Linked DNA regions of Homo sapiens. The protein of the gene in region 3 interacts with the protein of the main gene of each other region in a pairwise test. Each region holds a gene or a part of one and is shown on either strand. Other genes may lie near its edges.

The links.
Region 1: the proteins of AIG1 (region 3) and GOLM1 interact in binary tests that used the Homo sapiens proteins (3 or more experiments, as listed by UniProt).
Region 2: the proteins of AIG1 (region 3) and CPLX4 interact in binary tests that used the Homo sapiens proteins (3 or more experiments, as listed by UniProt).
Region 4: the proteins of AIG1 (region 3) and APOD interact in binary tests that used the Homo sapiens proteins (3 or more experiments, as listed by UniProt).

Annotation. Positions count from the first base shown.
Region 1 is NC_000009.12:86,026,215-86,033,713, reverse strand, and holds part of GOLM1 (Golgi membrane protein 1), read left to right. Parts: intron 1-318; coding exon 319-432; intron 433-5,820; coding exon 5,821-5,897; 3' UTR 5,898-7,499.
Region 2 is NC_000018.10:59,315,612-59,324,093, reverse strand, and holds the start of CPLX4 (complexin-4), read left to right. Parts: upstream 1-5,444; 5' UTR 5,445-5,631; coding exon 5,632-5,798; intron 5,799-8,482.
Region 3 is NC_000006.12:143,063,688-143,071,186, forward strand, and holds part of AIG1 (androgen-induced gene 1 protein), read left to right. Parts: intron 1-7,499. UniProt on the Homo sapiens protein: Hydrolyzes bioactive fatty-acid esters of hydroxy-fatty acids (FAHFAs), but not other major classes of lipids. Show a preference for FAHFAs with branching distal from the carboxylate head group of the lipids.
Region 4 is NC_000003.12:195,580,941-195,588,595, forward strand, and holds the start of APOD (apolipoprotein D precursor), read right to left. Parts: upstream 3,001-7,655; 5' UTR 2,938-3,000; intron 1-2,937. UniProt on the Homo sapiens protein: APOD occurs in the macromolecular complex with lecithin-cholesterol acyltransferase. It is probably involved in the transport and binding of bilin. Appears to be able to transport a variety of ligands in a number of different contexts.

The DNA.
Region 1 (7,499 bases), on a different chromosome or scaffold from region 3:
GTGGCACCTTTCTTTTATCTTGAGTTGATTATCTCTTTAAAAAATTGAGATTTGGGTTGTTAGTTTCTCCATGTTCTGCCTAGAATGCACCCTTGTATTTAGGGCCATGCTGTCTGTAGATTCCGAGTCCAAGTGGAGTACACATAATGCATGTGCTTGTCCTGGAAGCCAGCCCTTGCGTCCCTACCATTTCCAGAGAGGCAGCAGACAGATCTGATTGTGAGCAAGTATGGCTAACCCCCAGCACTTGTGCTCTGATAGTCCTGTGACATCAAGACAGAAATGATGTAGCTTATGTTTTATGTGCTAATTTTACAGGGAGAAACCAGCAGAAACTGAGAGGAGAAGATGACTACAACATGGATGAAAATGAAGCAGAATCTGAGACAGACAAGCAAGCAGCCCTGGCAGGGAATGACAGAAACATAGATGGTAAGAATGGGGCCTACATCGGTGACGAGGTCACCTTTCATTTCTCTTTCCTGGTCCTTCACCGTGATTATCCAATGAATCCCCAAAATTATATTGTAATTAATGGGTCATTTCAAGGAGATCGTCTGTTCTTTAGGAGCTTTTAAACCAGGGGCAGTGGAGGGAAGTGAGGGTTGAGAAGCCCAAGGTGATGAAAACCATTCGGAAAGTCTGCATCGTTTCTAGAAACATATTCAGTGTGGCTCAACTCTTTAAGTAGGATGATTTTTCAGTGACATTTAGGGATTTCCCAACAAAATGGCTAGGTCACTACTTGATCAGTCTGCCTCCCAGATGAGAAGCCCCAGTATGTGCATAGAGCTTCCAAGCAGCTATGAAAGCTGCCCTTTGTATTATTATTTTGAATTTTTGAAGAGTCCAGGCCAGTATCTTGTAGAATGTATCAAACTCTGGCCTTGTCTGTTTGCTTGTGGTGGATTCAGGCTGATGAATTCTTGCTTCTCCCCAGGAGGCATAACAGCAGGTGGTCCTACAGGTGATTGGTTGATCCCTTAGCTAACATGGTGCCCACAAGGTCTCAGAAGGCCATTTTCCTTTTGATATTAATACGTCATCTAGAAGAGGATGCTTTGAACTTGTGTAGCTTTACCATCCATTGATGAACATTGCCCAAGTGGTGACATTTTACATGCTGCCATCACAGCACATTTATTACCTGACATTTTTTAAGGAACTCCTCTCCCTCCTCCAACACACTTGTTTGTTTTGGTATCACTATGGACTCATAGTATTCTTTCTTAAAATTCATTTTTCTGGGCCAAGTGTGGTGGCTCACACCTGTAATCCCAGCGCTTTGGGAGACCAAGGCAGGCAGATCAGCGGGTCAAGAGATTGAGACCATCCTGGCTAACACGGTGAAACCCCGTCTCTACTAAAAAGAGAAAAAATTAGCCAGGCGTGGTGGTGGGCGCCTGTAGTCCCAGCTACTCGGGAGGCTGAGGCAAGAGAATCGCTTGAACCCGGGAGGCAGAGGTTGCAGTGAGCTGAGATCGCACCGCTGCACTCCAGCCTGGGCAACAAGAGTGAAAATCCATCTCAACAACAACAACAAAAGAATCCAAGCCATGTGACTGTAGTTTCCCACAGCCTGAATACTGCTGATTATAGAGTCATGGGGGAGTTGAGTGAGTTCGCCTGGTCTCTGTTTTCTGTAGAGTGGCAGCTATACCCAGAGACTTGATGAGACTCAGGTCCTGGCTCAAGCCCTCGGTAAGGTGAGTGGTGGTGTGTTCTTTGGTTCTTTCATCGGGAGGCACGTCATGTCTGGCGTCTTTTTTTTTTTTTTTTTTTTTTTTTGAGATGGAGTCTCGCTCTGTCACCCTTGCTGAAGTGCAGTGGCGCGATCTTGGCTGACTGCAACCTGGCGTCTTTCTTTTTGTGATGCCAGTTGATGGTCAATGCCTGTATCAATTCATTTTTATGTTATTTGTTAATTGGAATGTTCTTAGAAATAGACACTTCAGCTGGGCGTGGTGGCTAACACCTGTAACCCAGCACTTTGGGAGGCCGAGGATGGTGGATCACCTGAGGTCAGGAGTTTGAGACCAGCCTAACTAACATGGTGAAACCCCGTCTCTACTAAATACAAGAAAATTAGCCAGGCGTGGTGGCACATGCCTGTAATCCCAGCTACTTGGGAGGCTGAGACAGGAGAATCGCGTGAACTCGGGAGGCAGAGGTTGCAGTGAGCCGAGATTGTGACATTGCACTCCAGCCTGGGCAAGAAGAGTGAAACTCCGTCTCGGGGAAAAAAAAAAAAAAAAAAAAAAAAACCTCAGTGGTATTGTTTGTATAAGGTAGATAGGATAAATGCTTGATTTCTTTCCTTTTTAACAGTTTTCATGACTATGAATTACTTCCCCATCTTCTCTGAGGGTAACTGCTTTTAAAATATCATCATAAACTTCAGAATTCAGCAGAAATCCTCAGGGCAGCAGGAGTCGTTGTAACAACTACTTCACTTCAGTTTCGGCCTTGCTGATCCTGCCGATGCCCTTTTTTTTTTTCTTCCTCAGATGGAGTCTCACTCTGTTGCCCAGGCTGGAGTGCAGTAGTGCGATCTCGGCTCACTGCAACCTCTGCCTCCCGGGTTCAAGCGATTCTCCTGCTTCAGCCTCCCGAGCAGCTGAGATTAGAGGCGCACGCCACCACGTCCAGCTAATATTTGTATTTTTATTAGAGACGGGGTTTCACCATATTGGCCAGGATGGTCTCCATCTCCTGACCTCATGATCCGCCTGCCTTGGCCTCCCAAAGTGCTGGGTGGCGTAAGCCACCACGTCTGGCTAACAATACCTTCTTTTATTACCATCTGGGCAATGCATTATTCATTTAATGTTTTAATACTTACATTTTTTTTACCTTTTCATTTTGAAATAATCTAGACTTCTTTAAAAAGCAAAAAATTTCTGTATACCCTTCACCCAGGTTCCCCAAATGTTAACATCTTATATAACCACAGTAAAATTACCAAAATAAGGAAATTAATGTTTATACAATGCTATTATCTAATCTGTAGACTTTGTTGAAATTTAGTGAGTGTCCAATTCATGTCTTTTTTTCTGGGTTCAGGATTATACACTGCATTTATTGTCAGACCTCTTTAGTGTTCTTTATCGTGGAGCAGTTTATCATTTATGTTGTTGGTCTTTTTTGAAGGGTAGTGGCTCAGTTATTTGGTTGAAAGTCCCTCAATCTGTGCTTGTCTGATTTTTCAACAATGTCCCCCTAAAAATTATCTTTTATATTTCTCCAGGATGTCAGTTGTTTCAATTGGCAGAGTTGTTTGGAATTTTTAGAATCCAAGTCCTAATTTGAATTTTCAGCTGTCTTCATTTAGGCAATTTTTTAAAAAGGCAAATGGCAAAATACACTAGCAGCCAGACTTTGAAGCAAATACAAACTCTCTGTTGTCATTGACTCCACTCATTTATGTTCTTGAGCATGTTTCACGGTCTGGTCACTGTCTTACTTCTATTCTTTTTTTTTTTTTTTTTTTTTTTTGAGACAGAGTCTCACTCTTCTTGCCCAGGCTGGAGTGCAATGGCACAATCCTGGCTCACAGCAGTCTCCGCCTCCTGGGTTTAAGTGATTCTCCTGCCTCAGCCTCCTGAGTAGCTGGGAGCTGGGATTACAGGCTCATGCCACCATGCCCAGCTAATTTTGTATTTTCAGTACAGACAGAGTTTCACCATGTCCACTAGGCTGGTCTCGAAATCCTGACCTCAGGTGATCTGCCTGCCTCAGCCTCCCAAAGTGTTGGGATTACAGGTGTGAGCCACCACCCCGGCTCTAACCACCTTTTAAATTGGGCCTAGTTTCCTACTAAATGATGGGCTTTGCGGTGAAGCCTTTTTGGATCTCTCATTCCCTACACTCAGGTGTCCTAAGGACTTGACCTTGTGCAAGGTTTTAAACAAAGTAAGTAGGTAAGGTAAAGAAAATGAGTGCCTTGTCAGCTCTTTGAAGAAGCTGAAGAAATGTCAACATCAGCTTCAACATTATTTTAAGATTGTGTCATTGAAACAGTGAGACCTTACTTGCTCCAGGGAAATTAGAAGAAAAAAGCATTAGCTCCAACTTTATTAAGAGCCTTTAACAGATACCGTTAATTTAATATGGCAGGTATTTAATGGTCATTAAACTACCATTTAATGTGCCATAGTTATAAATCAAGACCGTGGTTTTAGGTTTTATTTGTGATGTGCCTTTTTATGTTTTCTGTGTGTTAAAAGGATAGAGTAAGATCAGATGGTAGAAGCTACATACAGACATCAGCTCTGTAAAGGGAGAGCTTTGGAGTCACAAGAGCTGTCTGAAGCTGCAGACAGCTCTCAGGAGGCAGCGTGTGCCATTAGAAGTGCAGTAGCAAGGGAGTCACGCCGCACAGGAGCGTGGTGATTATATTTAAAATGTCATGAGTGCACTTGATACTGTCCATTTTCTATGGCATATGGGGCATTATGTCACTGTTACAAACAAGTATGGAATCTTTAGGTGCTTCAGCTTTGTTTCATGGCACATTGTTGGTCATCCATTTGGACACTTTGAAAGGGGAGGAGTTCCAGCTGGGCGTGGTTGCTCACGCTTGTAATCCCAGCACTTTGGGAGGCCAAGGCGGGCGGATCACGAGGTCAGGAGATCGAGATCATCCTGGCTAACAGGGTGAAAACCCGCCTCTACTAAAACTACAACAACAAAAAGAAATCAGCCGGGCGTGGTGGCGGGCGCCTGTAGTCCCAGCTACTCGGGAAGCTTAGGCGGGAGAATGGCGTGAACCCCGGAGGTGGAGCTTGCAGTGAGCTGAGATCGCACGACTGCACTCCAGCCTGGGTGATAGAGCCAGACTCCGTCTCAAAAAAAAAAAAAAAAAAAAAAAAGTTCCCTTATCCCCTTCACAGGGCATGCAATGGGGGTATGGCTTTCTTCTTCAGTGCCCCACAGCTCAAACCCCTAGGGGAAGCATGCGGACGGACAGGTTGTGGGGAGGATGGGTTTCAACCCCGCGGCAGCATCTAGGGTTGAGTGGTTACAGCTCCTGGAGCCCCACTGGGTGTGTGTTGCAGTGCGTTCTTTCAGCTTAGCTGTCCACAGGCAGCTTGTGTTAATCAGTTCAATTAGACCCTCTGCCTTATCGCAAGGACAGAGGGCTTTCTGTATCCCAGGTTCTTGCCCTAGTGTACTGAAAAAATCAGATCATGTGGGCTTGGAGAATGAATGCAAGATTTATTGAGTGGTGGAAGTAGCTCTCAGCAGATGGCTGGGGAGCCAGAAGGGGGATAGCATGGGAAGGTAGTCTTCCTCTGGAGTCTGGCTGCTCAGCAGCCGGGATCTCCTACTGTCCTTGGCCGAATTTCCCTTGGCGTCCGAATCGTTCCACCATCAATGGCCTGCCAGCGTCTTTCGATGTGTTCTTCTGCCAGTGTGTTCCTCTTGACGTCCAGCCGCTTGTGTGTGTGCCCGCTGGGGTCTCAGGGTTTTTATAGGCACAGAATGGGTGGCATGGCAGGCCAGAGTGGTCTTGGAAAATGCAACATTTGGGCAAGAAGACAGGAGTCCTTGTTCTCATTAGGTCCATGGGCACAAGCCTGAGGGTGGAGCCCTTGCCAGTGACCCTGCCCTTCTCTACCCAGCACTTCCCTGTCCCCCTCCCATATCACCGTTGCCATCTTGTCCTTGATGAGGAATACAACTCCCAATTACAGTGTTGCTGTGGGAGATGCAGTCCTCTTTATGACAGTTTCTAGAAGTTGATAAGAAAATGGGACCTGCCTAGGGCTAGTATCTCATTTAATACTCTATAGAATATTATGTGTTTTTCCTTTTTAGTTTTTAATGTTGAAGATCAGAAAAGAGACACCATAAATTTACTTGATCAGCGTGAAAAGCGGAATCATACACTCTGAATTGAACTGGAATCACATATTTCACAACAGGGCCGAAGAGATGACTATAAAATGTTCATGAGGGACTGAATACTGAAAACTGTGAAATGTACTAAATAAAATGTACATCTGAAGATGATTATTGTGAAATTTTAGTATGCACTTTGTGTAGGAAAAAATGGAATGGTCTTTTAAACAGCTTTTGGGGGGTACTTTGGAAGTGTCTAATAAGGTGTCACAATTTTTGGTAGTAGGTATTTCGTGAGAAGTTCAACACCAAAACTGGAACATAGTTCTCCTTCAAGTGTTGGCGACAGCGGGGCTTCCTGATTCTGGAATATAACTTTGTGTAAATTAACAGCCACCTATAGAAGAGTCCATCTGCTGTGAAGGAGAGACAGAGAACTCTGGGTTCCGTCGTCCTGTCCACGTGCTGTACCAAGTGCTGGTGCCAGCCTGTTACCTGTTCTCACTGAAAAGTCTGGCTAATGCTCTTGTGTAGTCACTTCTGATTCTGACAATCAATCAATCAATGGCCTAGAGCACTGACTGTTAACACAAACGTCACTAGCAAAGTAGCAACAGCTTTAAGTCTAAATACAAAGCTGTTCTGTGTGAGAATTTTTTAAAAGGCTACTTGTATAATAACCCTTGTCATTTTTAATGTACAAAACGCTATTAAGTGGCTTAGAATTTGAACATTTGTGGTCTTTATTTACTTTGCTTCGTGTGTGGGCAAAGCAACATCTTCCCTAAATATATATTACCAAGAAAAGCAAGAAGCAGATTAGGTTTTTGACAAAACAAACAGGCCAAAAGGGGGCTGACCTGGAGCAGAGCATGGTGAGAGGCAAGGCATGAGAGGGCAAGTTTGTTGTGGACAGATCTGTGCCTACTTTATTACTGGAGTAAAAGAAAACAAAGTTCATTGATGTCGAAGGATATATACAGTGTTAGAAATTAGGACTGTTTAGAAAAACAGGAATACAATGGTTGTTTTTATCATAGTGTACACATTTAGCTTGTGGTAAATGACTCACAAAACTGATTTTAAAATCAAGTTAATGTGAATTTTGAAAATTACTACTTAATCCTAATTCACAATAACAATGGCATTAAGGTTTGACTTGAGTTGGTTCTTAGTATTATTTATGGTAAATAGGCTCTTACCACTTGCAAATAACTGGCCACATCATTAATGACTGACTTCCCAGTAAGGCTCTCTAAGGGGTAAGTAGGAGGATCCACAGGATTTGAGATGCTAAGGCCCCAGAGATCGTTTGATCCAACCCTCTTATTTTCAGAGGGGAAAATGGGGCCTAGAAGTTACAGAGCATCTAGCTGGTGCGCTGGCACCCCTGGCCTCACACAGACTCCCGAGTAGCTGGGACTACAGGCACACAGTCACTGAAGCAGGCCCTGTTTGCAATTCACGTTGCCACCTCCAACTTAAACATTCTTCATATGTGATGTCCTTAGTCACTAAGGTTAAACTTTCCCACCCAGAAAAGGCAACTTAGATAAAATCTTAGAGTACTTTCATACTCTTCTAAGTCCTCTTCCAGCCTCACTTTGAGTCCTCCTTGGGGTTGATAGGAATTTTCTCTTGCTTTCTCAATAAAG
Region 2 (8,482 bases), on a different chromosome or scaffold from region 3:
CCCAGTGTCAGAGTTCTCAGTGAGAATGGCTGTTACTATTTAATTAAAGGTCTATCTCTAGGAAACAGTCCTAATGGGTTCATGAGCCTTGGCCAGGGTGAACCTGAGTGAAAGACACTACAGAATTCCTCAAGCCTCTGGGAACTAAGGCTTTGTAACTGAGGCAAACTTACTGTGTCTGCTCTGGATGAGTCTCTCCTAAGAGCCTCCTTAGTACTTAATGCAAATAGACTTATTGCTAGCCATGCCACGAATGTTACAATTTGCCAAATATACCTGAATTCCAGGCATGAACATAGCTCAGCTCAAACTGGTCAGCCCACTGTGTAAACAGTAAGTTAGAAAATTAATCTTTGGTTCCCAGCCCATCTTCCCCTTCCATGTAGAACCAGCATGGCAATTTACAATCAGATCATGGAAGCCAGCATGTCCTGTTAGAAAATAACAACCACTGAATTGCCTACCAACTCAGCACTCGACCAACATGGAAGTTCTGTGGTAGAGAGGATACGGAATAGAATACAGTTATTACCTCACCAGAAAGTGATGTCTGTGAACTGAAATAGACCAGTCATACAGTGTTGGCAAAAGAAATACTTTAGGGGCTAGGCATGGTGGCTCACACCTGTAATCCCAGCACTTTGGGAAGCCAAGGTGGGAGGATCACTTGAGCCCATGAGTTTGAGACCAGCCTGGGCAACATAGCAAGACTTCATCTCTACAAAAAATAAAAAATTAGCCAGGTGTGATGGTGCATGCCTGTAGTCTCAGCTGTTCAGGAGGCAGAGGCAGGAGGATCGCTTGAGCCCAGGAGGTCAAGGCTATAATGAGCCATGGTTACGCACTCCAGCTTGGGTGACAGAGTGAGACCCTGTCACACACACACACACACACACACACACACACACTCACACACAGATTTTGAAACGTTCGGTATAACACTGCTGAATATTTCTGGAAGACAGAAGAATCAGCCCGGGATACATTTCTTAAAATGGCCACTTTGGGAGACAAAGGATTGAGATGCTTTGAGTCTCCACAGAGTCACAAATGGTCTCACAATCTATCAGATAACAATGGGCCAAGGTAGTACTGAAGAGACTCTTTGGTTCTGTAGCTCAATGAAAACCATACTGTCATGATTGGGGAATTTCTTTGCACAGCTGGTATATAGCCTTGAGTTTGTATCTACAAGAATATTAACCAATCCTATAGAAATGAAAACAAACATGCTACTTGGCCTGGCATTTCAATACAGTTCATTAAATATGTATTAAGCATCTATGATGTACATGACACTCTATTAGGTAAAACACAAACCACTAAAATGTCTCCAGTAGGCAGTTATTAGGATTAGGACTACGTGTTTAATTTCCTTTGTGGTTTCCGTAATGGTCCTTCTATTTCCCAAGACTTTTTCCTCTTTTTATATTACCTCTTTTTTCCCAGTTAAAATAGAGGTTGAAAATTAATCCCAGTGAATCTCATCTTTAGATCATTTCTACACTTAGCCAATTAGCCAAGTGTGGTGACACATGCCTTGGCGCTTGGTGACCTTTTTCTTCTTCAGTTCTGCTGACCTTCATGAGCACAGAGGTTTAGCTGCATGGTTACCCCTGAAATGTTGTGTCACCCGCTAAGAGGATATAACAACTGAGACAGGACAACCTAATCACCATGATTTCCTTGGGGAAGGTCAAAAAAGAAATGATACCACTAGCCGATTTTAATTACAGGAGCAAAATTTAGGTATTTGATGTGAAAAGAAAAATCCCAGGTGAAGGACCAAAATGGATTTATGCTGTTTGAATGTGATCTCTTTCTAAAATTTAATTCCACTAATGGGATTATTGCTTCTTTAGCAAATTCTTTGGGTCAGATACCATCAAAATTTTCAAGTTGAATAGGCCACAACGAATCTGTGTTTACAAAGGTGATCCATTAAATCAGAATGAGGCATGATTTTAAAAAACTATGGCAAGTAGTCTTGATCCTGGGAGCTGGCAAAGAAGGCAGCAACCACTATGAGGTGGATTTGTAAGCACTAAGATGCTACTTCTGTTATTGGTGGAGGGTGTCCAGGTTCTTGGCATTTTGAACAAGGAATTAGACAAAACGCACAAACAAAGCCAGGAAAGAATGAAGCAACAAAAGCAGAGATTTATGGAAAACAAAAGTAGACTCCACAGACTGGAAGCGGCCCCACCATAGGGGCTCAAGAGCCCCTTTGCAGAATTTTCTGGGGTTTAAATACCCTCTAGAGGTTTCCCATTGGTTACTTGGTGCACACCCTATGTAAATGAAGTAGTGGCCTGCAATCAGTCTGATTGGTTGCGGAAAGCAAACAATCAGAGACTGAAGTGAAGTTACAAAGGTTACACCCTATGCAAGTATCTGATTGGTTGTGGAAAGCAACCAATTAGAGGCTGAAGTGAAGTTACAAAGTTACACTCCTATCCAAATGTCTGATTGGCTGCAGAAAGCAGCCAATCAGAGATACTTTGAATTTTCCATCTGCCACGTAGAAAAAGTTGGTGGGGGTGGGGGTGGGGGTCGGGGTGGGGGTGGGGGGCCGGGAGTTGCAAAGGGAGTAAGGAAGTAGCTTCCAGTCCTTTTGTTACTTAGGTGTGGAAAGTTGGGGTTTTCCTTTTAATTTAGTTCTAGGAAGTCAGCATGAATTGGCCTTAGGTTCCCTGCCCCCAGACCCTATTCTCCTGTCTCCCTTTTGCCTGAAGATAACTCTCCAAGTGCCTCCATCATCCGATGTAGTACCTTGATTACTTCCATTGAAAGCGATTTGCTCAAAAATAAGCCATTAGGCCTAGTGGCAATCATTCATTCATTGTTTTCCCCCAAGATTCTTATTGATCACTTACTATGTGCTGAGCATGATTCTCAGAGATGGGGATGCAAAGGTGAACAAAATTGCACTGGTCTCTCTTATGGAGCTTACATTCCAATGGAGTAGATGGAAAGGAAACAACTAAATCAAGGAAAATATACTTTCAGGTAGAGTGCAGTACTATGAAGAAAAATAGAATAGGATAGAGGATTAAAAGGTGGGGTAGTGGAGGCAGGGTATCTTAGGATGGTCAGGGAAGTCCCTCTAAGAAGGTGAATGAGAACAGAAACCTGAATTAAGCAAGGGTGAGCCACCTAGAGATGTGGAAGAGCAATACAGGCCAGGAGGTTCCACAAGGACATAGGTGGGAGCAATCTTGGTTTAAGGGCCAACAAGGACATGAATGTGATTAGAATGAGCAAAGGGAGTGTGGCTGAAGAGGCTGGCAGCTAGGCAGTGGGCAATCTTGCAGCAAGGAGTGGGGATTCTATGCAAGGACAGTAGGGAGCCATGGGATGGGGACACCTAGAGGTCCCATTCATGAATCCAGGGCATTCATTTCCCCTTTCTGAAGGAACGGAAGATTCTACCACCATTTCTACAAGATTCTACAGCCAGGCTTGGTGGCTCACACTTATAATCCCACCACTTTGAGAAACTGAGGCAGGCAGATCACTTGAGGTCAGGAGTTCAAGACCAGCCTGGCCAATATGGCAAAACCCTGTCTCTACCAAAAATACAAAAGCTTAGCCGGGCATGGTGGCGCATGCCTGTAATCCTAGGTACTCGGGAGACTAAGGCAGGAGACTCGCTTGAACCCAGGAGGCGGAGGTTGCAGAGAGCTGAGATCCTGCCACTGCACTACAGCCTGGGCAACACAGTGAGGCTGTCTCCAAAAAAAAAGATCCTACACACCAGCTAGTAGTTCCTGGATGTCCAAGGGCAAAGGTCATTGTAATAAATCAAGGAGTAAAAAGTTTTTTAAGTCGTGACCTCATTCTCAATGGAATTACCTGTTGAGGAAATAATAAGATATTTGATTTCATAAAGCACTCTCAGGAGACCTTCCACGGCGACCCTGCTGAAGCTACCACCGAAGAGTCCCCATAATGCATGACACCCCCTCTTCCTAACCCCCTCCACACAAACATACATTCAGAAAAGGACGGGACAGGGAGAAACTCCTTTACACATGGGTGCTGGAGTTTAGAATTGACACCCTCACCATTAATATTTCCTAATTCCTCATACAATGGAATTTTTAGAATAGATTTTATAATAAATCTAAATAATTACTTATAATAAAATGTAGACCGAACAGACAGAAACACAAGGCTGTGGCTTTTATTTTATGGTTTGAAAAGTTCTATGAGACAACATTAATTAGTAACATTCCTCAGTGGACTGCAATGTAGTTTATTATAAATGGTAATTTAGAGATAATGGTATGAACGTGTTAAGTTCCAAGCAACCCATCTAAAAGAGAAAGTGGAACTCAATATTGATGGGCATTCTCCTCGAAGCCCTGAGTACAGCTTATATTTCACCCTAAATTATCTTTTTTAGCCTTTCATATTGAGACCATTTAAGCAGCATTTTAAAATAGATTACTAAAAGGGAAAGCAGACGATAAAATATATAAAGCAAGCATTTTAGGCAAGAATCCAGATTATGTAATTCTATATGATCAGAGAGATAATCACCTGGTTTCTGAGAGGACTCATGCCTTCAGATAAAATAACAATGGATTACATCTCTTCCTTCCCACCCCACCCTCTTTGGCAGGCTTTAATTAGAAAGATACTAGTGTAGATTGAAGTCTTAGCCATACTCAACTCTTCCCTTGACCTGAAGAAAACCACAGCCATAGAGAATCTGGTGGGATACAAAACATTGTCAGTTTCATCCAAGTACACCAGTGAGCTTAAATAGAGCACCCAGGAGGTGCACTCTTTATGCAAGAGAAAAAAGGTGACCCCTTACATATTGATGATTTGACTCACATAATGGTCTTACCTTCTGGATCAGAGCCTTGAAGTGTCAAGCACATCATTTCCATATAGACAAGTAATATTTCCATGCAGGAGAAGGCTAAGATAATCTTCCAGATGTAAACCAAGGACCTGCTGTCTGGGTCTTTGCATTTGTCAGTTGTGTATTTATGTGCGGGACACAGTAACTATTGAAGCAAACCGAATTCAAGCAAACTAAAAAGCAAATCCTTGCATAGTACTTAAAGTCCAATGAGATAAAATGATGGATCGAAAGGATTATTTTTGCTTAATGAAGCATTCTGGGTTTTGAGTCTCATTGGACTCAGTTTTTCAACAGGATGTTTTGCTCAAGGGCTGGAATTTGGAAATTCCACAACAGCTATATAATCAGTCAGCTCTGATTAATTTAATTGAAACAGGACTCTTGATGAAGCCCTGCTGTGCTTATAATTAAAAATTTAGAAAGGGGTAGATGATGTGGGGATTTCTTTTTCCTGTGAAATTAGCTGAGTGTATTAATTCAGAAGGTAGGCAGTTGCCTCTGATTGTATGCTTCGGTAATCTGAACCATCTGCCTCTATATACTAAGGAGTTCACCACTTTAATCCAGCTTACGGCCGACAAACCACTCTTCTCTATCAGTATGCCCTTGAATAGATGAGGTTGTGCAAAGTCCTTTGCTCTTAAATGTATTGCTGTCATTGAGAATATTTGGAGGTTTTCTCTTGGGTTTGTTTGGATTTTTTTTTTCAGCTTTTGTCTGAATTTTGGTTTTATTTTTCTGGGGCAGAGAAAATGGCTTTCCTTATGAAAAGTATGATAAGTAACCAGGTAAAGAATTTAGGATTTGGTGGTGGGTCTGAAGAAAATAAAGAAGAAGGAGGTGCATCTGATCCTGCAGCAGCTCAAGGGATGACTAGAGAGGAGTATGAGGAGTATCAAAAGCAAATGATTGAGGAGAAGTGAGTACATGCTATTTCATTTCCCTTAAAAAGCAAAGGAAATTCATTCTGGCCATACCTTCTTCAGTTCTCCAGTTTATTTCTCTTTGCTTTTTAAGATGCCTTTCCTTTTGCCGTTTACCTCTAACCCAAGGAAAGGTTGTTCTTCTAAAGTAAACGGTTCCCTAACATCAGCAGCTACTATGTTCTATGTTCTACATGTATGAATGGAAATGAACAATAATAAATGAATCTATATGTTGTTCTTAAAGCAGCTTAACACTTTCTGGTCTAGGCATGTTTTGATTGACCTCAATTTAATTATTTAGATGAAAAGTGGTAGGTTTAACTATCTTTACATTCTTTCTAAACTTCACCCTCTTAGCACGTAGAAAGTCTTCAAATTGTAAGAATTCAGACCTTATACCTAGAAAAGGGCCTAAAATAACATAGAGGGCAGCTTCTTTGATCTTGCATGTGAGAAAAAAAAAAAAAACCCAGGAAGCATAACATGACAATTATGTCATAAGACTTGGCTTATCAAAGACTATGAATGGATTTGTGGACTGTTTAATATGGAAATTCTAAACATACAGAAAAGTAGAATAGTAGGACAAATACCCACATATACCTATGACATAAAATCAACAGCTTACAGTTTGCTACATTTGCTTAAAGATTAAAAAGATAGATGGTAGATAATAGCTTTTAAAGTAAATTACAGATGTCATGTACTTCACCCCCAAATACTTCAGCCACCTTCCTCCAAAAAATAAAGGCATTTTCTTGGCTATATAAAATATAACAAAAATAAAATATAAAATATAAGCAACATTTAATTGGGTATTATAGAATGTGAATATCACCAACAACTTTTCACCACTTGAAGACTGATTCTGAAATAAATGTAATCTCTGTGTAATTTTTAAATGTTTAAGGTAGAATTAAGATTCTTTTAATAATCAGTTAAGAAATGAAACATCAATCTAGAGGTTAAATGTTTATCATATGTTTCAAAAGAAAAGTATTTCTTTTTTGCCACCAGGACTCTTTTGCTAATGATCAATTACATAATAGTTGCCTAAATCCTATCGCTAAGATGATTATAGGTGAAAAGGTTAATGACCTGGAGGAAACAAAGAAAGTACAAAGACTACGTTTAGTGGAAACCTTGTCTATTGTATTTTTCTGAAAGAAATCATGGCTTATAGACTACCTAGAATACATTATGCTTGGTTCTGCAGTAACTTAAAGTTGGTTTTTAAAAAACAGTCAATGCAACTAGCAAAAATGATGGTGCTAAGACTTGGGCAAAAGAAGCAGCATTCCTTGAATATTGGCTGATTTTACCTATGGCATGCAAAAGAACAAAAAGCTTAAAAGCAAAATAAGTACTGTGTAATGAAGGATAGAAGACAAAAATCAGCATCAAACATTCTCAGATCAAGTAGGCTAATGAAAACAGAAATGTAGACTACAGTTGTGAGCATGCAAAATATCACCTAATATGTTCAAGCAGCAGATCCGATTGCAGATAAGGCATCTATTTGATTAACTAATGTCCTAGTTTTCCTTAATTTTATATCTGGACAGATCAAAGCTCAAAATGGCCAAATCATACAGTCAATCAGCAGACTGAGTTGTCAGCTACTCAGCTTTTTGCATATGTGTGTGAGAATATTATATATTTATGTAGTCACTCAATGTAAGAAATAGTGTCAGGACAATGGAGCATTTGGCTTCCCTATGATAAAGAGGGATGACTTTCAGTCCATTGTTTGAGTTTTCAAGAATTTCACCACCTAGAATGCAATATGTAGTAGGCATTAAAAATAATTCATCACAAGATAAACGCAGAGAGAGCTACAAACAGTTTAGTATATATAATAATTAAAATCAATGTTAGCAAATGAAAGCCTCCTAAACCCATCCTCATCATTGTAGGAAGTGGGGAGACTATATGAATTATAAATAAAAAACTATTTAGCAATGCACTCTATTTAATAATGCACATTCATTTTTATTTTCTTTCTGTGTTCAATGTGTGTGTGTGTGTGTGCGCACGCACCACTGGTAACATTAGTACTGAAAGAGGTCTAAACATAAATAGACTATCTGGAAAGGAAATAAAACAATAGTCTGTTTCTCCCGCCATTTTCTCAATTATATTAAAATGCTTCTTTGCCATAGTTATGCTTCAACAGTTTCTACAATATCATTTGTAACTTGACTCTGACCTTTGTTTTATTCAGTAATTGTTTGGACCCCTAGTATGAGCATAGCATTGTGAGGAATGTACTGAAATGGAAGAGATGGGTTTTCTTCTGCAGGAATTTACACTTTACTTGGTGGGGGGAGACTAGCTAGCTGCATGTGACTATAAACAGAGCAACCAGCTTTTCTGCGTGATTTGTAGACTGGCTCTGGAGGACTGGAATGTAACTCTGCGTGGCATTAGTATCAACAAATCGATCAATGGGGTTTATAGTTATTTGATTTTCAACAAAAGCGCCAAAATAATCAGACCAGGAACGGAAAGTCTTTTCAACAAATGGTGCTAAACAACTGAAAAACATTGAACTTTGACCCCTACTTAACACTATACACAAAAATTAATTTGTCATGCATCATACACGTAAACATAAAAGCCAAAATTATAAAGCTTTTAGAAAAAAAAGTAGGAGAATATCTTTGCAACTTGAAAG
Region 3 (7,499 bases):
TAACTTTTTAAAATTGTAATGTGAAGGCCCTTTTTTCTAGCCAACTTGGATTGCAGGAATCATTTATCCTGATAGCCACAGTTGGATTCCATATTCCATGGCTTCAGTTTACCAGGATCTGAGTCAGGAATCTCAGGCTCTATGCATCCAGGAGCAGATGATTATGTGGCAGTGGCCATTCTGGCTGTATTCATTTCTCTCCTTGGGTATGAGGGTCATTCCAGTAGATTCAGAGCTTATGGTCAAAAACTGAAATACACATTGTTGCTACCAGTAATCTTATACTGTTATTCTCCAATGGTTTCTTTTCCTAGTATTGAGAAACTGTAAGAGAACTAAGGTGTTTTTGGAAAATTGAAGTTAGTAAATGGAAAAAGAACACTGTCTTGGTGTGGTAGGCAGAATAATGGGCCTCCAAAGATGTTTACATTCTCATGCCAGGAACCTGTGAATACATTAGGTTACATGGCAAAGGGAAATTAAAGTTGCAGATGGAATTAAGATTGCAAATCAATTGACCTTAAAATAGGGTAATTATCCTGAGTTATCCCATTGGGCCCAATGTAATTACAAGGGTCCTTAAAAGGAATAGGGAAACAGAAGACAAGAGCTTGTTGGAGGAAGATGTGACTGGAAGAAAGTCAGAGAGAGATACGACAATGCTGGGTTTGAAGATGGAGGATGGAGCCAGGAGACAAGGGGTGTGAGAGGTGTCTAGAAGCTGGAGAGGACAAAAAAATGGTTTTCCTCCTAGAGTTTCCAGGAACACATACCTGCTGACAGCTTAATGGTAGTGTATTTTGGACTTCTGACCTCCAGAATTGTAAAATAATAAATTTGTGTCATTTAAGCCATTCAATTGATAGTAATTGGTTACCACAGTAATAGAAAACTAGTATACTTGGCTTTAAAGCCTCTGACTTAGAAAAAAAACTTAACTCTTTTTGTACTTATATGAAATAAATGCAGTGACTCAGCTAGCCCTTTATGTATAGTAGATAACTGGTTAATTTTAGCTTTAACAAAAATGCAAGTTTTTTCCTACTTCATCCATGAAATTATGTGGAGGAGACATACATATGTGTAACAGTGGGCAATATGAGGATTTGTAAAGACTGGACTGTCAAGCGTGTCTGTGTGAAGAGACCACCAAACAGGCTTTGTGTGAGCAATAAAGCTTTTAATTCACCTGGGTGCAGGCGGACTGAGTCTGAGAAAGGAGTCAGCGAAGGGAGATGGGGAAGGGGTTGCTTTATAGAAGTTGGGTAGCTAATGGAAAATTACAGTAAAAGGTGGTTATTTATTGTTAGCAGAGAAGGGGGTGACAAGGTACATGGTGGGGAGATCATAAGACTTATTGTCCAGAAGAAGAATGTCACAAGGTCGGTTGATCAGTTAAGGTAGGGCAGGGACAAGTCACAACGGTGGAATGTTGTAATGTTGGTTAATCAGTTAAGGCAGGAATTGGCTGTTTTACTTCTTTTGTGGTTTTTCGGTTGCCCCAGACTTCTTGGCTCCTGCAGGCCATCTGGATGTATATGTGTAGGTCACAGGGGTTACAATGGCTGAGCTTCGGCTTAGAGGCCTGACATGGACAACTTTGGAAAAACTAGGTCTTTACTATGAAGTATTTCAGAGACTATCATTAAGTAACATGTCAGGCCAGGAGAAGAAATACACTTAATTGGAAATAAGCTGGAAAGAAAGAAAATTTAAACTAGCTGTTACTCAAATATTAACACTTTCTTAGTCAATATCACAGCTGATGAATTTTCTTCAAGTGATGTGGATTCATTCACTAGCAAAATGATTATGCTGTGTGTTACATGATAATTGCCCCAAAAGATAATAAAGAAGAATTAGGATAAAACCAACATAAATAAATGAAAAGAAAAAGGCAAATGTATTTTGAGGTCTTAAAGTAGTATTTGGGGTATAATAGGTGTTTAGTAAATGTTTAAGTAAATGGAAGCTTTCTCTTCCCAAATTTTCATTGAGTATTCTTTTCTTGTCCTGTCTCCTCCCAAAAACATTCAAAATGATAGGAATTTAAAAATGTATCAACCAGAACATTATTCATATGTATATGGTAGAGTCTAACAGATGAGTCAGAATCAACTTCTTTGAAAACCATGAACTGGATTTTTTAGAAAACTTAAAATATTGATGATGGATGTAAGACATCTTGATTTTTAAAGATTGAAACATATCTGGGAATCCCATTGGCTCTAGTTTGTAGTACTGGCCATTTTGAGAGTCATCCTCTCTTAGGGCCGTATCATACCCATTATTCCTCCTAGACTGGCTTTTCATTCATGTCATGGCAGAATATTGTTCAGGCCCTGCCTACTCAAAGTGCGGGCTGAGGACCAGCAGGATCAACTTTGTCTGGGAGCCTGTAAGAAATGTGGCATCTCCAGCTCCACCCCAGAGCTTCTGAATCAGAGTCTGCATTTTAATAAGATCATCAGGTGATTTCTATGCACATTCAAGGTTGATAAATGCTGCTCTAAGTTGCATTGTTTTTTCATTTACATGGATTAATTGTAGGACCCTGTAGAGCAGTCTTAATATATGAATTCTGCCTATTTTCTTTGTTTTTTTTTTGAGACAGAGTTTCACTCTGTCACCCAGGCGAGTGCAGTGGTGATCTTGGCTCACTTCAACCTCCGCCTCCCAGGTTCAAGAAATTCTCCTGTCTCAGCCTCCCGAGTAGCTGGGATTACAGGCACCTGCCACCACACCTGGCTAATTTTTGTATTTTTAGTAGAGACAGGGTTTTACTATGTTGGCCACACTGGTCTCAAACTCTTGACCTCAAGTGATCTGTCTGCATTGGCCTCCCAAAGTGCTGGGATTACAGGTGTGAGCCACCGCGCCTGGCCTGAATTCTGCCTATTTTCAAAACATATTACAGATTGACTTTCACTGTGATATAACAAAAAAATGTAAGAAATTACAATTTGAAAATAAAAGAAAGATATGTTTCAGATACGAGAGATGGGTTAGTTATTGCTATTGAGAAACAAATTTAAATAATCTTCAGGGCAACTAAGGTGAAAAACAATACACATTTGATTGTATTGTCCTTATGTTGAAAGAAAGGAGGTATAACAATTTATTGGGAAAAATACAGTTCTTTCCAGGCACTGACTTTTCAAGGTAATTTATCACTCAGATATTTATTTAAAGAACATTAAGGGTGGGTATGGTGGCTCACACCTGTAATCCCAGCACTGTGGGAGGCCATGGTAGGAGGCTTGCTTAAACCCAGGAGTTCGAGACCAGCCTGGGCATCACAGCAAGGCTCCCACTACAAAAAATTAAACATTATTTGGGGGTGCTTGCATGTGCCTGTAGTCCCAGCTATGTGGGGGCTGGGGCAGGAGGATGACTTGAGCCCAGGAGTTCGAGTTTGCAATGAGCTATGATAGTGCCACTGCACTCCAGCCTGAGTGACAGAGCCAAATCCTGTCTGTAAATAAAAATAAAAAAAAAACATTGGTTAGCATAGTAGATAATGTCTTTGATTGGTTTTTAGTGTAATATATAGAAAAATTTTTATGGTTAATGTTTCTTATTTGATGGTTTTATGAAAGCCAAAGGCATGGTCTTATATTTTGGCTAGGTGAAGGCATTTTTGTAGAAGTTTAAGGTAATATAATCTAGGTACTTTTTTTGTTATCTAAATCTGTATTGCAAAGGAATTTCAGAAAACCAGAGAGAGATGAGGATAAATAAAGTCTCAGATGTGGAAAAGCTTGGGGTGCTCAAAGAATAGGAAATAGTCAAGTGTACCTGGACGATACCATTTTTGCTTTTAGACATGCTGAGAATTTTTGACATTTAAAAAATGTTAAAGAGGGAAAATAAGCTGCTTAAGTATACTACATTTTGCATTTGAGTTAGTCTTATATTTATTTACATACTTATCATAAAACATATTCTTGTCTCTAGTTCATGACTTAATTTTAAATAGGAAATAAAATACCTTGAGAAGAGATTCTGCATGTCATTATGTAACTATGGTACTTAGTTTTGCCAGTCAAAACCACACATTGCCACGTGAAGGCCAGTAGTTTATTGAGTACTCAGGGAACAAAATTAGGTGGATTTTTTTCTGTTTTTTGTTTTTTGGGGTTTTGGATATTATACAGAGAGTGTAAAATTGCAATTTTTTTCTTCAGGAGACTCAGACTTGACCCTAAAATATGCATATAAACTTGAAGGCTCAAATAATGTTTTTTCCTAACCTGGAGGAAGAATTGTGAGAATAATGCTTTGCATAGAATCCTCTTCACCTTCTTTGCATGTTTCTTTTGGATCAGGCATAAAATAGGGGCCTGGTTTTGTTAGAGTGGGGGAAATAGTTGATGATATAATCACCCATTCCCTCTTAGTTGCAAATGGTATTGAAATTACAGAAAGTCATCTGACCACTAGTTGAGGTCACTTCTTTTCCCATTCCTGCCATTCCCCCATGTCTGGTATAACATTTGGCAAAATTGGTAACTGCTCTTGAGGGTTTTCATTTGTTTCTGTGTGTTCCTCTGAAATGTCATGTTTCTGGGGGAAGCAAGAACAACAGTACAATTTTCCACATTGAATCAGATGTTCATGTGATCCAAGCGTGCTTGGAAAAATCTTACTGCTTAGGATTCTATACAACATAGCTCTCTTGTGCAGTCTGTAGTTAGACAGTTAAAGGGCCCATGCCTCACCTGCAGGGTAGCCCTTCTGAGTGCGGTGGAAGCAGAGCTTTCTTGGAAAGTGAGACACCACTTGATCAGATCCATTGTGGAATTGAACAAGATGTAAGACAGAAGCATGGAATTCTGAAAAGTCAGACAATGCATTAGTGCACTCACATTGTCTTATATTTAGGTCTGTCAGGTTGTGTTATAATTTTAAAAATTAATTTCAAAAGCGATACATACTTATTATAGAAAATTTGTGCAAATACAGGAAACAATAGAAATACAGGGAAGAAAATATAGTCCATCTTAATTCTCCCTAATTTTCCTTGCATCTTAGCATTTTAGTGCTTCAGGATGGTATTTATTTTGGAACTTTAGTACATACAGGAACATAGAGAGACTACAGTATATATGTATATGTGTGTTCATACGTATGTAGTCAGATATCAGAAAAAATCATATTCTTTAAAACTTATTTTAAAATTACGGATATCACTTAGAGATACTGATGTTAGTATTTTGATATTTGACTTTTCAGTCATATATATACTTCTGTTAAAAAAACAAAAAATTCAATATGAACATATGGTTTTTATAAATTCTTCATCCACATACACTAAAATTTATTCCTTTTTTTTTTTTTCTCTTGAAATGGAGTCTCACTCTGTCGCCCAGGTTAGAGTGCACTGGCGTGATCTCGGCTCACTGCAACCTCCATCTCCTAGGTTCAAGTGACTCTCCCGCCTCAGCCTCCCGAGTAGCTGGGATTACAGGTGCATGCCGCCACTCCTGGCTAATTTTTTTGTATTTTTAGTAGAGACGGGGTTTCGCCATGTTGCCCAGGTTGGGCTCGAACTCCTGGGCTCAAGCGATCCACCTGCCTTGGCCTCCCGAAGTATTGGGATTACAGGCATGAGCCACCGCGCGCGGCCAATTTATTCTTTTTAGTATACAATACTGTAAGTTTTGACAGATGCATAGTTTTGATAGATGCACAGTTTTGATAGATGCACAATTTTCCAGAGTGGATGTGCCATGTTGCATTACCACCAGCAATGTGTGAGAGCTCCACAGATGGGAACTCATATTGTATCTTCAGAGTGTGGCGTTGTCAATTTTTCTTTTATTTCAGCCATTCTAATAGGTGTGTAGCACTATCTCATTGTGGTTTTGAGTTCCCCTCATGACTGAAGTTGTTAATTATCTTTTCCTGTGCCTTTTAATAATATATTCATGTTCTTTGTGAAGTTTGCCCATTTAAAAAATACTGGGTTGTTTTATTATTATTAAGCTTTGAGAGGTTTTATGTTTGCCAAATGAAAGCTCTTTGGCAAATATGTGATTTGCAAATGTTTTCTTCCTGTCTGTAGTTTATTTTATCAATAGTGTCTTAAACAGAGCAAAAGTTCATTTTGATGATACAAAATTTACCATTTTTCTTCTTTTTATGGAACCTCCTAGAAGTTTTAAAGTTTTAGGTTTTACATTTTTATCTATAATCCTTTTTTTCTGGTATATGTTGTGCAATTTTCCCTGCACCGTGTCTTGAAAAGATTGTCATTTTGCCATTGAATTACGTTTGCACCTTTGTCAAAAATCAATTGACTACATTTGTGTGTCTGTTTCTGGATTCTGTTCTGCTCCACTGATGTGTGTGTCCCTTCACAGGTACCACACATTGTTGATTGCAGCTTTATAGTAAATCTTCGAAGCAGGTAGTGAGAATCATCTAACTTTGTTCTTTTTCAAAATTTGTTTATGCTATTCTAATTACTTTTCCTTTTTGTTTAAATTTAGAATAATCTTGTTAATATCTACAGATAATTGTACTTGGATTTTTTAGTAGAATTTAATTGAATCTATAAAACGATTTGGGGAAAGTTGGACATCTTAACAATATTTACTTTTCCAACCCATGAACATGACATATCTCTTCATTTATTTAGATTTTTAAATTTCTTTCATTGATGTTTTGTAGTTTTCAGCATATAGTTTGTGCGTGTATTTTGTTAGGTTTATACCTATTTTATTTTTGATTAGTGCTATTGTGAATGGTATTTTTAATTTTTTTTTAGAAATTTTTATTTTCTTAGTCCATTTTGTGTTGCTATCACAGAATACCACAGACTGGGTAATTTATAAAGAAAAGAAACTTATGTCTTACAGTTCTGGAGGCTCAAAAGTACAAAAGCATGGTGCTGGCATCTGGTGAGAGCCTTCTTGATGCACCATAGCATGGTGGAAGGCATCACAGGACAAGAGAGGCATAAGAGAAAGAGCCAAACTAGCTTTTATGACAGACCCACTCTTGTGATAACTAACTCTCCTGTGATAATCTGTTAACACATTAATCCATTAATGGCAGAATCCTCATGACTCAATCACCTCTTAAAAGGCCTTACTTCTTAATACTGTTAGATTGGGGATTAAGCTTCCACATGAATTTTAGAGACAAAAACATTCAACGGCAGTGACCCTTTTATATTTAATTGACATTTTAATTGAGGTAATTGTAGATTCACTTCAGTTGTAAGAAATACAGAGAGATACTGTGTAGGCTTCACCCACTTTCTCCCAGTGGTTACACCTTGCAAAACTGTATTATAATATCACAACCAAGATATTGATATTAAAACAGTAAAGTTATAGAACCTTTCCATTATCACGAAGATACCTCATGTAGCCCTTTTATGGCCACAACTACCTTCTCCCTTTGACCCATCCCTAACCTTTGACAGCCATTAATTTGTTCTTTCTATGATTTTTGTCATTTCAAGAATATTGTGTATCCATAACCATACA
Region 4 (7,655 bases), on a different chromosome or scaffold from region 3:
CTCCTTGCCTGTAGCTTGCACACGAGCTATTTCCAGCTCTCTGCATTTCTCCCTGTAATGATGATGACTGATGCAATGCAAGCAAAATGTTCTCAGATCTGAGCATTTCGAAGGATGTGTCATTACAGGAATAATTATAACTGCTTTATTGTGAGTCTCTAAACCTCTAAATACCCTTTAATAATCAATAGCTTTTTTTCCCCTGGAGGTTTTGTTGCCTGGTTTTCCAAAGAACAGTTATGTAAGGAGTGGCAGCTTGCCAGCTGGGGTTGCTGCAGGGGGAGATGGTTGCTGAGGCCCCTTTGAGCAAGTCTGCCACAGGGCCACTTTCCCTGGTCTCTGAGGTTCCGTTTCTCATCGGCTCCACCACTGTATAAACAAAACCTGTCTTTTAACCTTTTGGGGGATGATGAATTTATAGAAATGCAGCCTAAACCCACACAAATTTGCATCCATTTTAAAGAGATCTTGAATTCTACTTAGTAGGCCCAAGCTGAAAGCCTGGCCCAGAGGATCAAACCTCAAAGACTGGCCACACACTATGCACATTCCACAAGGTCCCCACACTGGATAGGACCTTAGAGGTCATCTTTCTAGCTCTACTTCCAAGGTGTACAGATGGGGAAGCTGGGGCCTGGAAGGGGCAGAGAGCTGGGACTCGAGCTCCATCTCCCCCTCTCCTGTCTGCAGCACCCCGAATCTGCTTCTTCTGTGCACCGCCATAGGGCCTTTCAATAACCCCCCACCTCTGTGACCTGATGAGTCTCACCACCACATGACACTGCAACAAAAGTCAGTTCTACATCTTACTCTGACAAAATGCTCTCTTGTGAGCTGAAACAGATTCTTTACCTCAGTAGGAGGATTTCAGAACAACCCCTTTGACTGACCCTCTTCCAAAGATGCCTCTTGGTTACATTAGTTTTATTCCTGTGGTTAAAACTCCTTGTGATGCCAGGTGCGGTGGCTCAAGCCTGTAATCCCATGGGAGGCCGAGGCAGGTGGAGCACCTGAGGTTGGGAGTTCAAGACCAGCCTGACCAACATGGAGAAACCCTATCTCTACTAAAAATAAAAAAATTAGCTGGGCATGGTGGTGCATGCCTGTAATCCCATGCTGCCTGTAATTACATGCATGCCTGTAATCGGGAGGCTGAGGCAGGAGAATTGCTTGAACCCGGGAGGTGGAGGTTGTGGTGAGCTGAGATTGCATCATTGCACTCCAGCCTGGGCAACAAGAGCAAAACTCCGTCTCAAAACAAGCAAACAAACAACAACAACAAAAAAACTCCTTGTGAGAGAAAGGGCGGACAGCATCCATTATAGTTTTCAATGTCCTTTCATTCTAATTTACTCATTACTTATTGAGCATGTTATTAATGTGTACTTAAGACTTTGGGTAACATATGGATTATATACGACATATATTTTTGCATCTTCTTCTGATATCAATAGGAAGATTGTTCTTATGAGGAGTTTAAATACTTTACAAAATAAGTATAATTTAAATATTATTTTTGGCCGGGCATGATGGCTAATGCCTGTAATCCCAACACTTTGGGAGGCCGAGGTGGGCAGATCACTTGAGGTTAGGAGTTTGAGACCAGCCTGGCCAACATGGCGAAACCCCGTCTCTACTAAAAATACAAAAAATTAGCCAGGTGTGGTGGCAAGTACCTGTAATCACAGCTACTCGGGAGGCTGATGCAGGATAATTGCTTGAACATGGGAGGCAGAGGTTGCAGTAAGCCAAGATCACACCATTGCACTCTAGCTTGGGCAACAGAGCAAAAACTCCATCTCAAAAAAACAAAACAAAAACAAACAAACAAAAAATACAAAAATTAGCTGGGCATGGTGGTGCAGTCCTGTAATCCCAGCTACTTGGGAGGCTGAGGCACAAGAATGGCTTGAACCTGGGAGGCGGAGGCTGTAGTGAGCCGAGATCGCGCCACTGCACTCCAGCCTGGGTGACAGAGTGAGACTCCGTCTCAAAAAAAAAAAAAAAGAAATATGATTTTTAACAGAATATGAGGTAATTAAAAAGCAATCCAACTAAGGTGACAGTGCATCCACCTTGGGCCTGGCACTAGCTGGAAATCACTGCTCCACTTGCATTAAGCTTACCCGTGGAGAAGCCCTGGTCCCAGGATTTTAAGGGTGCTATGCGCTCAGTCTCCACAGCACCTCCTCTGGAGGCGACCTCTGCTGACACTCTCTTCATACCAACGAGGTGAATTTGCCCGGGTTACTTCCTGGTAAACTACGAAGCCACAGTGTAAGCCTAGGCCTGGGGACAGGCTAGAATGTAAGCCTAGGTCTCCCACAAGCCCGCGCTCTTAGTGCCTGGGGACACAGCCCCTGACCTCAAAGATCTGCAGAACGTGAAGGACTAGATTTTGAAATTTCACCTCATAAAATAAAATAGGTTCCAATAAGTCATTAGGTCTCAAAGACTCATTTAGCCATTAAATATAACAAGACACGTATCTCCCAAACACAATATTTTATGCCATATTGTCAAATGCATTTTCTAGTCACACCATTAATTCCAGTTTCCAGATTATTTTACTGCGATGCACCGTTGGACAGCTTGCTGAGAATTCACCTAGGACGGTGTTTGTGCATGGAAACACCTCGTTGTCCAGTTTGGAGGGGTAAGCAAAAGACGCTGGGATGAGTTCACACTGGGTTTGGTTTTATCTTAGGCATGTTGCTAGTGTATCTGAACCTCAGCTTTATCACTGGAAAAATGGCTCTGATGATACCTACCTTGTACATTTGTTTGAGGAAAAATGAGAACAAGTCTAAAGCTACCGGCACAAGCTCTCAATCAGTGGTAGTTATATGTAGCTGAAATGGGGCAATGGAGAGTCTAGACTGTTTCTATTTTAGACATTATTATCATAAATGAAAAGCTTAAAACTACAGTACATACCTTTTCTTTCAAGATGAAGGCAGTTTCCAGATGCAGAATCAGCCGATTTGAGATGCCTGTCTTGGTGACTGGCCTCTCCCAAGCTATTTTATAAGCTTCTTCAGGTCTCTGATGTTTACTTTTCATGCATGCCACGCCCGCCGCCCCCATCCAGTCAGGAGGGTTGGCCTAAAAGCTTAGTCTGTATCGAAACACAAAGATGGGATGTTGTGTCCATCCTCCTCCCCCGATTTCCTTCACAGCTGCTCCCTGAAGAAGAAATGAGATATTGTTTTCGCGCGCGCGTGTGTGTGTGTGTGTGTGTGTGTGGGTATGTGTGCGAGAGAGAGAGAGAGTATGTGTGAGAGAAAGATAAAGTATATTTTCATCCAAAACATTTTTTTTTTTGCTATGTGGATTTTCTAATTTAATTTTTTTGGTCAGAATGCACTTTTAAGTTCCAGCAGGACGTGTTGCAACATGTTTTCAAACATCTGGTATTTATTTTTCATTTTTGTGTAAATGAAAAATCAACAAGCTCATTTCCTGAAGTGGAACATGGAGTTCCTGACTCCACTAATGGGAGTCAGGTAATGGCGCGAGGGTTATGAGTCAAAGCTGGCTTTCTCCAGGATCCTGGGCAGCCCCCTAACTTCTCTGAGCCACAGTCTCCTCGTTGTAAGTAGGGGCTGTCATTCTTTCTCCACCAGAGCCAGACGTGTAGGGGAGATACCAGTTCTCTAACAACTGGGGCTAAAAGTTGAGAATGCAGAAGACATCTTCTGTCGCTCTGTTCTCTGTCCCTTTTATGACCCTTGCAGCGAGAAGTTCAAGACAGTCTGTCACTGCTTGGGGGTGGGGGCCGGGGTGGTGGGGAGTGTGGACTTAAACCCAGGGGTGCTTTTGGTCCAGCCTTATCTCTCCTGGTGGAATGAACAACTTTGACTCTTGTGAGTGAGATTCTATGTCTTTGTGATAGGCAGGAGGTATGTTTAGAGACATTTAGATAAGGCAGTGCCTTCGTAGTAGACTTAGACTCCTAAATGAAATTCATTCTAAAATATGTAAGCAACAGAGATACATTTACAGCACTGAGTCTATAAACATGAAAACAACAACACAGATCCGTAACATCCCAAACGTTGTGAGCGCTTTCTTTAAGATGTTCTTTGCCTTTTCAGAAACATAAGAAATTCCTACTACCACCCAGGGCCTGCCTCTCGCTGACCTCCTGTGCTGCCCTCCCCTAAGAGCTCTGTGTAGCTCCCTTCCCCACTCCAGGTCCCTGATCAGATGACACTTTTCCCTAAAAAGCTTCCTGACCTTTCAAAAATAGCACTCTTGTCACTGTCCCTTTCCCTGCTTCATTATATCTTTACCTGAAATTCTCTCCTTTATTTATACATTATCCTGCTTAGTATGTTTTCCCCAGGAGGATAGGAGCTTGAGGCGTGCCAGGAGTTTGTCTCTTTGACTCTGTGTTGTGCCCCAGTGGCTAAGCACATACTAAGTGCTCAGTAAATACTTATAAATTAAATGGATGCTATCCAAAGAACTTAATGAGTTTCTAAGATATACAAAAGGCCCCAGAGGTAATATTCACGCGATTTTGATTTCAATTGTATTTCTGGAGAAGCACTAGCCTGTATGTTTCTGTCTTCTTCACCTGTATCACATTTGCCACCAAGAATTGCCTGTCATTGAAGAAATACACAGTTAGCCTCTTTTCAGCCTATTACAAAAAATTCTCTCTCCTCTAAGCAGTTGCACAGTTTTCCACAAAGCACTGTTGCCTAAGTTTCCAAATATGTATGTTGGAGTTGGAGATATCTATGTATTTTAGCCCTCAGCACTGAAGTCGGCAACCATGGAGCTGAAGGTCCAGGTCTAGGAGTCACAGCGGGAGAAAAGCCACACGATCTTCCTAGGTCTCAGTTCATTTTTTCTGTAAATATTGGTAAGTGATATATTCCTTAGGGAAATCCTCTCTTCACATGTTTCTGGAATGTATAGCCAGTAACAAATTCTTAAGCAGCATAAAACAAATCAGACCTATCTTCTAAGCAAGTGTTTATTTTTAAGTCCCAAAATAAATACACATTTGTTCAAAACAATTAAAATAGCACCAAAATGCAGGACTCAGGAAATGTAAGCACCTCATAATCCCACACCTCAGAGATAAGCATTATTTTGTTTGTAATTATTCCTCTAGATCTTTCTATACAGATCCCTATGTAATAATAACAATATTCAATGTTCTGAAACTTTTTTTTTTTTTTGAGACCGACCTTCACTCACTCTGTCACCCAGGCTGGAGTGCAGTGGTGCAATCTTGGTTCACTGCAACCTCAGCCTCCCTGGTTCAAGTGATTCTCCTGCCTCTGCCTCCCGAGTAGCTGGGATTACAGGCGCCCGCCACCACACCCAAGTGATTTTTGTATTTTTAGTAGAGACGGAGTTTCACCATGTTGGCCAGACTGGTCTCAAACTCCTGACCTCAGGTGATCCACCCGCCTCGGCCTCCCAAAGTGTTGGGATTACAGGCATGAGCCACCGCCACTGCGCCCAGCCAAGAAACTTGTTTTTTAATGTAACAATGTATCTATCTTTCTATATCAGTACACATAGATCTACCTCATTCTTTCACCTGCTGCAAAATCTTGCTTTTACCTGAGAGCACATTTCTTTTTTTCCTTTCTTTTTTTTTTTTTGAGACAGAATCTCGCTCTCGCCCAGGCTGGAGTGGTGCAGTGGCCGGATCTCGGCTCACTGCAAACTCTGCCTCCCAGGTTCATGCCATTCTCCTGCCTCAGCCTCCTGAGTAGCTGGGACTACGGGGGCCTGCCACCATGCCCGGCTAATTTTTTTTTTTTTTTAGTAGAGACGGGGTTTCACCGTGTTATCCAGGATGGTCTCGATCTCCTGACCTCGTGATCTGCCCGCCTCGGCCTCCCAAAGTGCTGGATTACAGGCGACAGCGCATTTCTTGAAGAGACAGTCTGTGGTCTGTGGTTTTTCCGGAAAGCAGTTCTTTGTTGGGTGATGATCTTTCATCATGGAGGTGATTGCCTCAGTGGTTTCACTCTCAGACCCGCAGGGAAGATGCAGTTATTTGAATGGACTCTTTGTGGCAAGAAATAGAGAACTATCTCATCTCCTAAAAAAACATGTTTCTGGATGAAGAATTCTTTATTTCTTAATAAGTGGTTCTTTCAACTACCAGAGTCATCCTGTATGCCTTTCTAAAGTGATTTTTCTTTTGTCAGTTAGAATAAAGGGGACGCACAAATGTACTTTTCGTGTGAAAATGCAGACTGAGAGGTTTCAGTAGTGCACCTTCACTCTTTAAGACTCGGCTCAAATGTCCCCCTCCCTGGGTCATCTTCTGGATTCCTAGCCCACCCCACGCAGCGTTCTCCCATCTGCTTTGTGTTTTCATGGCACATGTCACCCTGTCCTCACTCATTACACTATGCTTATGCCTCCATCTCCTTCTGGAGACGGTCAGATCCACCCAAGTAGGATTGTCTTTTTATCCCTGGCACCTTACATGATGCCTGACACGTAAGTGTTTACTAAATATTCCGTGAATGATGGAATGAATAATAGAATATGCTAGATTCTCAGTCCTTGCTGGGCTTGTTATAGACCTCATTATTCATTCAGAGGCCCTCTTTCCTCTCCCTCCTGTGCCCTGGTGGCCATTTCCCTTCTCACTGGGCTCTGGAACTAGTTGAAAGTTTAATGGTGCCAAGCATCTGGTCAACAGGAAGACAGCAATCAAACTGGTGAAAACAGCAGCTTGATATGGCATGCAGGGAAGAACACTGGACTGGGGGCAGGAGGCCTGGGTTCTGGTCCTAGCTCTGTTACTAATTTATTTATCCATTCATTCACGCATTCAACAACATATAGCAACACTACGTTGCTGTATGTATACACACACACACACACACACACACACACACACACACACACGGGGGTGCGGGGCACTGTTCTGAGTCCTGCAGATATAGTGGTAAAGAAGAAAGACAATGTCTCAGCCCTTGTGGGACTTACCTCCCAGAGGCGAGATAGACAGACAGACAGGAAAAATACCTAATTAGAGTGGGTTGAGGAGGGAGAGTACCTATTTTTCCTGTCTATCTGTGTGACTCTCCTCTGGGAGGTTAGAAAAGAGAATAGGATGACGTGATAGGAAGTGAAGGGTGCCCACTTCGGTCTGGTGGTCAGGAAGAGTCTCTTTGAATACTGACATTTCAGCTGAGATGTGAGTGATGAATGGGAACCAGTCATTCAAACACCAAAGGAAGAGTGTTCCAGGAAGAACTGCCAGTGCAGGGGTCCTAAGGTGGGAACAGACATTAAGTTTTTAAGAAATGGAGAGACCAGTTTGGCTGGAGCAGAGGTGAGGAGGAAGTGAGTGTGGAGAGGTAGACAGAAACCAGAATCTATCTTGCTTTGAGGACCTTGAATTTTATTTCAAGTACAGTAGGAGTCATGGGAAGGTTTTAGGCAAGAGCATGACATGGTTATTTGGGCTTGACTATCAAGAATGGAGAATAAAATGGTTACAGATGGATCAGCTGAGGAGCCCCTGTGGTCATTTGGGAAATAGTTTGATGGTGGTTTGGGCTAGAGTGATTAGCATACAGATGGAGAGAAGTGGGCAAATTTGGAATGTGCTTTGGAGATAAAGTGGACAAGACTTGCTGATGGGCCGCAGGTGGAAGATGAGG